2 linked regions of the Homo sapiens genome follow. The protein of the gene in region 2 purifies or fractionates together with the protein of the main gene of each other region. This does not show direct contact. Each region holds a gene or a part of one and is shown on either strand. Other genes may lie near its edges.

Region 1 (3,651 bases), on a different chromosome or scaffold from region 2:
CAAACTGTTCATTACCTTGTCCTAGACAATCCCCAGCTCCTGAACGCACAGCCTTCAGCCTGGCTGGGCTCCCGCAGGGCATTTCCCCAGCGTAAACCACACCCTGATACCCCCTAACCCAAAGGGATCCCAGCAAGCTCTGCGCATCCCAACTGGAAGGCCCACTCACTGTGGATGAAGCTTGTAGAGTGTCCCGTCCACTCCCACAGTCACATTCAGACGGTCCAGTCCTCTGTTCTCGCGGATCTTATCCACAACCGCAGCCATGCCTGCGCCACACAGCTGTGCGGCCCTCCTGGACACCACCCCGCACACTGTCTTGACGAGGATACTGTCATCGCAGGTGCTATTCAGACCTAGCTGCTGGAGGATAGCCCGGACCTGGAGCAGTGCTAATCGGTCACTGTGGGGGACAAGAGCCAGAGGGCTGGATGAAGCAGGACCCACAAGAGCAGCCTGGAGACCACGTCCAAAGGACGCCCCCCGCCCCCAATCACTGTACTCATCCACAGACAGAGTCAAGGGCAAGTGTTACATGTTAAACTGTGGAGAATTTGGCAAATCTAGCAAAATAAAAATTGGAAAATCTAAACCATTCACTATCTCAACATCTAGGAAAATGCTATTAACATTTTAATATATTTCCTTCCAGTTTATTTTTCCTAGCTGGTATGCTTCTCATGATATGCAAAATGGGATTATCCTTGATATGTGATTTTCTTTCTCTTTCCTGTTTCATGCATTGAGCAATTTCCCACAGCCTTATCTGAGAACAGGATTGGAAACAGCTGCTGCAGTATTCCCTCTAGGGATGCACCATGATTTCTTTAGCCAGCTTGGAGAAATTCAAGTTAATTGCAATTTTCTGCTATTATAAAGAAACATTTTGATAAGGTTTGTTTATAAATCTTTGTGTGCAATTCTGATGTTTTTCCTTAGGATAAATTTCTGGGTCAACGAGCTTTTGCTACACATTGCCAGATGCCTTACAGAAAATTGTATCCATTTACTCTTCAGCAGAGTATTTGGCCACACTTATCCTCACTGGAAAAGAGCATTTTTTTACAACTTTTGACAGTTTTATAAGAAGGCATCACAAGACTGTAGTTCAATTTATATTATTCTCTATTAGTGAGGATGATCTCTTTTTTTTCCATTTGTTTTTTGGCCATATAAACTACTTCTTACGTCTCAAGACTTTTCTCCTGATATATTTGTCTTATTTATATTAAATTGAAAGAGACGATAACTGGGATGGTACAATGAAGACCAGCCAGGCTTCTTGGAGGACTTACCATGTAACATATATTTTACATACATTACCTTACTTACTCCTCAAACAACCAATGAATGTATGATTATTCCCATTTTAAAGATAAGGCAACTGAGGCTGGGAGAAATTGAGTATTGCAAAGCACACAGCCGGTGGAGAAGAGCAGGTGTAGACCAGACCTGCCAAAGCCCACCATGCCCTGCTAGGCGTCTTGTCATACACAGTACAAATGTCTTCCTCAGTTTACCGTTGCCTTTTAAGTTTGATTACTTTTTTTTTTTACTTACAGACACTATGTAGCTATATTTGGCCATTTTTCTTTATGATTTCTTTCTTTGCTATTATGCTTGAAAAGACTTTCCATACCACTTCATACCCATTAGGATGGCTATTCTCAACTCAGAAAATAACAAGTGTTGGCGAGGATGTGGAGAAACTAGAACTTTCACGGGCTGCTGGTGGGAATGTAAAATGTTACAGCCACTGTGGAAAACAACATGGTGGTTCCACAAACAACTGAACAGGGAATTACCATATGATCCCGCAAGTCCACTTGGGGTGCGTACACACACACACACAAACTGAAAGGAGATACTGGTCACCCGTGTTCACAGCAGCATTTGTCACAATATCCAAAAGGTGGAAGCAAGCCAAGTGTCCATGGATGGATGAATGAATAAACAAAATGCAGTGTGTGCATGCAATGGAATATCACTCAGCCTTAAAAATAAGGAAATTATGGCCGGGCGTGGTGGCTCATGCCTGTAATCCCAGCACTCTGGGAGGCCAAGGTGGGCAGATTACCTGAGGTCGGGAGTTTGAGACCACCCTGATCAACATGGGGAAACCCCATCTCTACTAAAAATACAAAATTAGCCGGGCGTGCATGGTGACGCACGCCTGTAATCCCAGCTACTCAGGAGGCTGAGGCAGGAGAATCGCTTGAACCCAGGAGGCAGAGGTTATGGCGAGCCAAGTTTGCACCATTGCACCCCAGCCTGGCCAACAAGAGTGAAACTCCGTCTCAAAAAATAAAAATAAAAAAATAAGGAAATTCTAACACATGCCACAATACGGATGAACCTTAAGACATTATGCTAAGTGAATTAAGCCAGTCACAAAGGACAAATGCTGTATGATTCTATTTATATGAAGTATCCAGAGTTGTCAAATCCATAGAGACAGAGAGTAGAATGGTGGTTGCTGGGGTGGGGGGAGGGAGGAATGTGGAGTTAGTGTTTGCTGCGTACAGAGTTTCAGCTGAGAAGATGAAAAGAGTTCCGGAAATGGATGGTGGTGATAGCTGTGCGACTATGTGAATGTACTTAATGTCACCGAACTGTATACTTAAAAACCATTTTGCCTGGGTAAGAGCAGTGTATAGGCTTGTTAGGTTTTTTTTTGTTTAAGGTTTAATATTTTTTTTCTTTTCTTTCTCTTTTTTTTTTTTTTTTGAGACAGAGTCTGTCTCTGTCGCCCAGGATGGAGTGCAGTGGTGCAACCTCAGCTCATTGCAACCTCCGCCACCGGGCTCAAGCCATCCTCCCACCTCAGCCTCCCAAATAGCTGGGACCACAGGAATGTGCCACCACGCCCGGCTAGTTTTTGCACTTTTTGTAGAAATGGGGTCTTGCCATGTTAACCAGGCTGGTCTCGAACACCTGAACTCAAGTGATTCACCTGCTTTGGCCTCCTAAAGTGTTGAGATTACAGGCATGAGCCACCGTGCCCAGCCTACACAGAGCCTACGTTAGGTTATTATGACCATTCTAAGAAGAACACAGTATTTGCACAATTGCTTTTGTTTTTTCTGACCCTTTTTTCCTCCTTCTCACACAGCGTGCCTTAGAAGACAGCAAAGGCCAGGAAGAAATGTACCCTGGACAGGAGAAAAGTAGAAAGAAGGTGGAACAACTTGCTGAGGGGCATCAGCTCCTGGGTGGCCTGGCACTGAACCCCAGGCTGCCTTTCAGATAAATCCAGGTGGGCCCTATGCACCCCCAATACAAGTATGTGTAGTGCATCTTTACCATCTGAAATGGAATCCATATGGCCCTCTTACACACATAATTTCAAATAAATCAATATAATGCCCCAACATAAAGGATGGATAAAAGGAAAGTAAGTAATTTACTTATTTATTGAGATGCAGTCTCGCTCTGTTGCCAGGCCAGGCTGGAGTGCAGTGGCGCGATCTCAGCTCACTGCAACCTCCACCTCCTGGGTTCAAGTGAGTCTCCTGCCTCAGCCTCCCAAGTAGCTGGGATTACAGGCATATGCCACCACACCCAGCTAATTTTTTGTATTTTTAGTAGAGATCGGGTTTCACCATGTTAGCCAGGATGGTCTCAAATCTCCTGACCTCATGATCCGCCTGC
Region 2 (3,491 bases):
CATATATGGAGCTTTTGAGGTACTGGAGATGTTCTATTTCTTGACCCGGTGGTCATATGGTATGCACATTATGATATGTTAAAAAATATATATGTATGTGTGTACATATCTGTTGTGGACATGCATACATATGTTTCATGTACTTTGTCCATATTCCACAATAAGAAAATATACAAATGACCAGTAAATATGAAAAGACATTCAATCTCACTAGTAATTAGAAAAATAAAATAACCATGATCAGCTATCATGATTTGCTGAAAATGTAAAAGACTGATAATATCCCTCTTTGCTGAGGTTGCAAAGAAATAGGCATTCTCATATGCTGTCAAAGGAAAGTAAATTAATAACTCTTTTTGAAGAACAATGTGGCAATATGTATAAAAACATAAAGCTTGTCTTAAAAGTTTTCAATTGCAATTCCAAATATCTATCCTAATGAAATTCACATGCACTAAAGATATGTGTACAAAGATGTCTGCCATTCACTACAGCATTGTTTGCAGTAGTGAAAAAAATGAATAAATATCAATAAGGGAAGATTTATGAAAAGTATTATAACCCATACAATGAAATACTATGCAGCCATTAAAAATAAAACTTTATAAACTGACATGGAAAGATATCCAAAACACATTAAGTGAACAAAAGCAAGACACAGAATAACACACACATAACATAATCCTGTTTCTAAAATATAAATATGTACATATATTTCTATAGAGTTATGAAAAACAGACTACATATTCATGCTGTAACCTGTTAGCAGTGATTACCTCTGGGCCAGGAAGTGGTGGAGGTAGAAGGAGGGTAAGCGGGACACTTTCCCATCTCACTCTAGATACATACATAGGATTCTTTTGTAATCACATATCCATGGACTACTTATATATTTCTAACAAGTGGTAGTAGCAAAACAACTGTATTATTATTTGTTCCACTCCCATGAGACCAATCTAATACATTTGAAAATAACTTGCTTTCAAAGCTAATTCTTTTGTTCCTGGAGGGCCTCCAGGGAGCCTACAGTTGCAGTCACAGGGCTGTCAGCCATCAATCGAGGAGCACTGTGCAGGATACTAAGTAACTTGGTCTGTCTCCAGGCTCGCCTCTTGAAAATATTTGCATACATTCTCATATCCCAGCTTACTGGCAGTAGCAATAATGTCTTCCCAGAGCACTTTGGTAAGGTAAATAAATTCTGATACTGCACATCAAATCACATCCATATCAAAGTGTAGATGTGGCTGTCAAGATCTATGTTTAGATCCAAATTAGTAATCACGCCCTTGATGAGTGACTTTTAGAACAGTTTGCATTTGGATTCCAAAGTAAGAACCTAGACCCCACTAAATCACCATATAGAGCTTTTCTTCTCTTTCTTCTTCCCTCCCTTCACTCTGCGCTAGCCCTTTCTAAAACTAATTTTTCTGTTTTCTATAAAGGTGGAAGAAAGGGCGAACCCGATCATGAGTTATTTGCAATCAGTAGTCAATCAGAACAAAAAGTATTATCAGTATATTTACAAAGAAAAATCCAACTACATGTATACATTTTGGTGTGCATTTTATTTTTGACTGGAATCATATCCATATGAAGGGAAATTGTGAAAGTATCCTTTACTCTTTTGAAAGCTTGGCCTTTGCCTTACTGTGTCAAAGGAAAGCAAAACTAAGCCAGTAATGATGGAGATGTCCCTGTTTCCATATGCACACTGACAGGCGAGGAGCTGCCTAGGAAATGCTTTTTGATTGATGAACAGAGGAGGGTCTACACACATTAAATACAAATGGAAACACATCAGCACACACAAGTCATTAGCCTGGTCCTCTGGCATCCACTGGCATGCATCTTTCCAAAGTATCACTTATTCAGTGGTAGCAGCACTATGTCTCGTTATGCCTTTTATCAGCAAATACCTTTTTATTCCAGAATGGAAAACAAACTAGGAATTAAATACATCCAATATTGATGCTTTATTTCCATAAGTCACCAATAAGAGAATGAATTTAATTTTAATACATTTATTTTTGTGTGATTCTTAATAAAACACTTTCAAAACATTCTGTACATTTCAAGCCACTCAGAACCGCATTACATTTCTACAAATGTGATTTGTTGGGATGAGGTGCCAAGATGTCTCTGTACAAAGATGTACAATATGTACAATCACTGTAAGTGCAAGCTGTGCAAAGCAGAGTCTAGAACACTAATTCATGCCAAGGCTTACAAAAACATTTCAACACATAAGACTAAAGCTTGAAACAGCGTTGTGGTTTTTTCCCTGGGCAAATGATTATTTTATAAACAAGTATATGTATATGTCATACAGAAAGAAGAGTTTGACTCCTCAGCTCAGTCAGTACCATGCAGCTGACTGGATACATTACAGGGCTGCTCTCCTAGGCCTCTTTCTTCAAGGCGCCATTTTGCCACACTCAACAGTTGTCTCATCACTGAGTGGCTGCCACTGCTGCCTTTGGCTGAACCACAGCAACACTAGGAGACTTAAATTTCGGGAGATAAAGGCCAAATTTGTTTTCGATGCCTGCAAACGTGGCTGTGGCGAGTCTGTATCCACCGATGTGATCAGGGTTGGCAGGAGGAAGGTCTGCAATGCGTGACTTAGGTGTTGGTTCTGAACCAGCGGGTTTGCTGTTGACAGAAAAAAAGCCAATGGTTAGCATGCTCAAGGTGGATGAGCGCAGCTTACAGCTGGACATTTTCGGTCTGACCCATGTGCCACAAAGAAGAATGTTTCTCTCAACCATTTCCATGGCATCTGTGCTGCATGACTAGAAACCACAGTCATGATTTATAGCTGCTTTGACAGCAACTTATCTACATATTTGATTTACAAGAGAAATGGCCTTATTTCCAATGCTTGCATACATATATAAACAAATCCATAGGAAAAAAGTCAGAAGAAAAGACACTCAAATATGAAGACTCTCTGGGTAGTAAGATTATGGATGATTTTTTTCTTTTTTCTTCTTGTAAAGATGGGGTCTTGCTATGTTGCCAAAGCTGGTTTCGAACTTCTGGTCTAAGGAATCCTTCTGCCTTGGCCTCCCAGAGCACTGGGAGGTGTGAGCCACCACACCCAGGCTGGTTTTTTTCTTTTATGCTTTATGGTTTTCCAAATTTTCTGCACTTAGCACATATGAAAGTAATTTTTAAAGTATATATTTTTCTTTTGACATAACTTTAGAAGTTAACTTTTTATGTAGTAGACTCATAAAGATTATCAATTAAATTATTTAAAGAGAGATAGGCCGGGCATGGTGGCTCACGCCTGTAATCCCAGAACTTTGGGAGGCCGAGGCAGGCGGATCATGAGGTCAGGAGATCAAGGCTATCCTGGCTAACACGGTGAGACCCCGTCTCTACTAAAAATATTAAAAAAAAAAAAAATTAGCCAGGCGCGGTGGTGGGCGCCCTTAGTCCCAGCTTCTCAGGAGGCTGAGGCAGGAGAATCACTTGAACCTGGG

Evidence for each region.
Region 1: the proteins of SLC25A12 (region 2) and HK1 fractionate together in Homo sapiens (co-fractionation; one large-scale study listed by BioGRID). This does not show direct contact.

What each region holds. Positions count from the first base shown.
Region 1 is NC_000010.11:69,395,347-69,398,997, reverse strand, and holds part of HK1 (hexokinase-1), read right to left. Parts: intron 404-3,651; coding exon 170-403; intron 1-169. UniProt on the Homo sapiens protein: Catalyzes the phosphorylation of various hexoses, such as D-glucose, D-glucosamine, D-fructose, D-mannose and 2-deoxy-D-glucose, to hexose 6-phosphate (D-glucose 6-phosphate, D-glucosamine 6-phosphate, D-fructose 6-phosphate, D-mannose 6-phosphate and 2-deoxy-D-glucose 6-phosphate, respectively).
Region 2 is NC_000002.12:171,782,821-171,786,311, forward strand, and holds the end of SLC25A12 (electrogenic aspartate/glutamate antiporter SLC25A12, mitochondrial), read right to left. Parts: intron 2,656-3,491; coding exon 2,454-2,655; 3' UTR 585-2,453; downstream 1-584. UniProt on the Homo sapiens protein: Mitochondrial electrogenic aspartate/glutamate antiporter that favors efflux of aspartate and entry of glutamate and proton within the mitochondria as part of the malate-aspartate shuttle.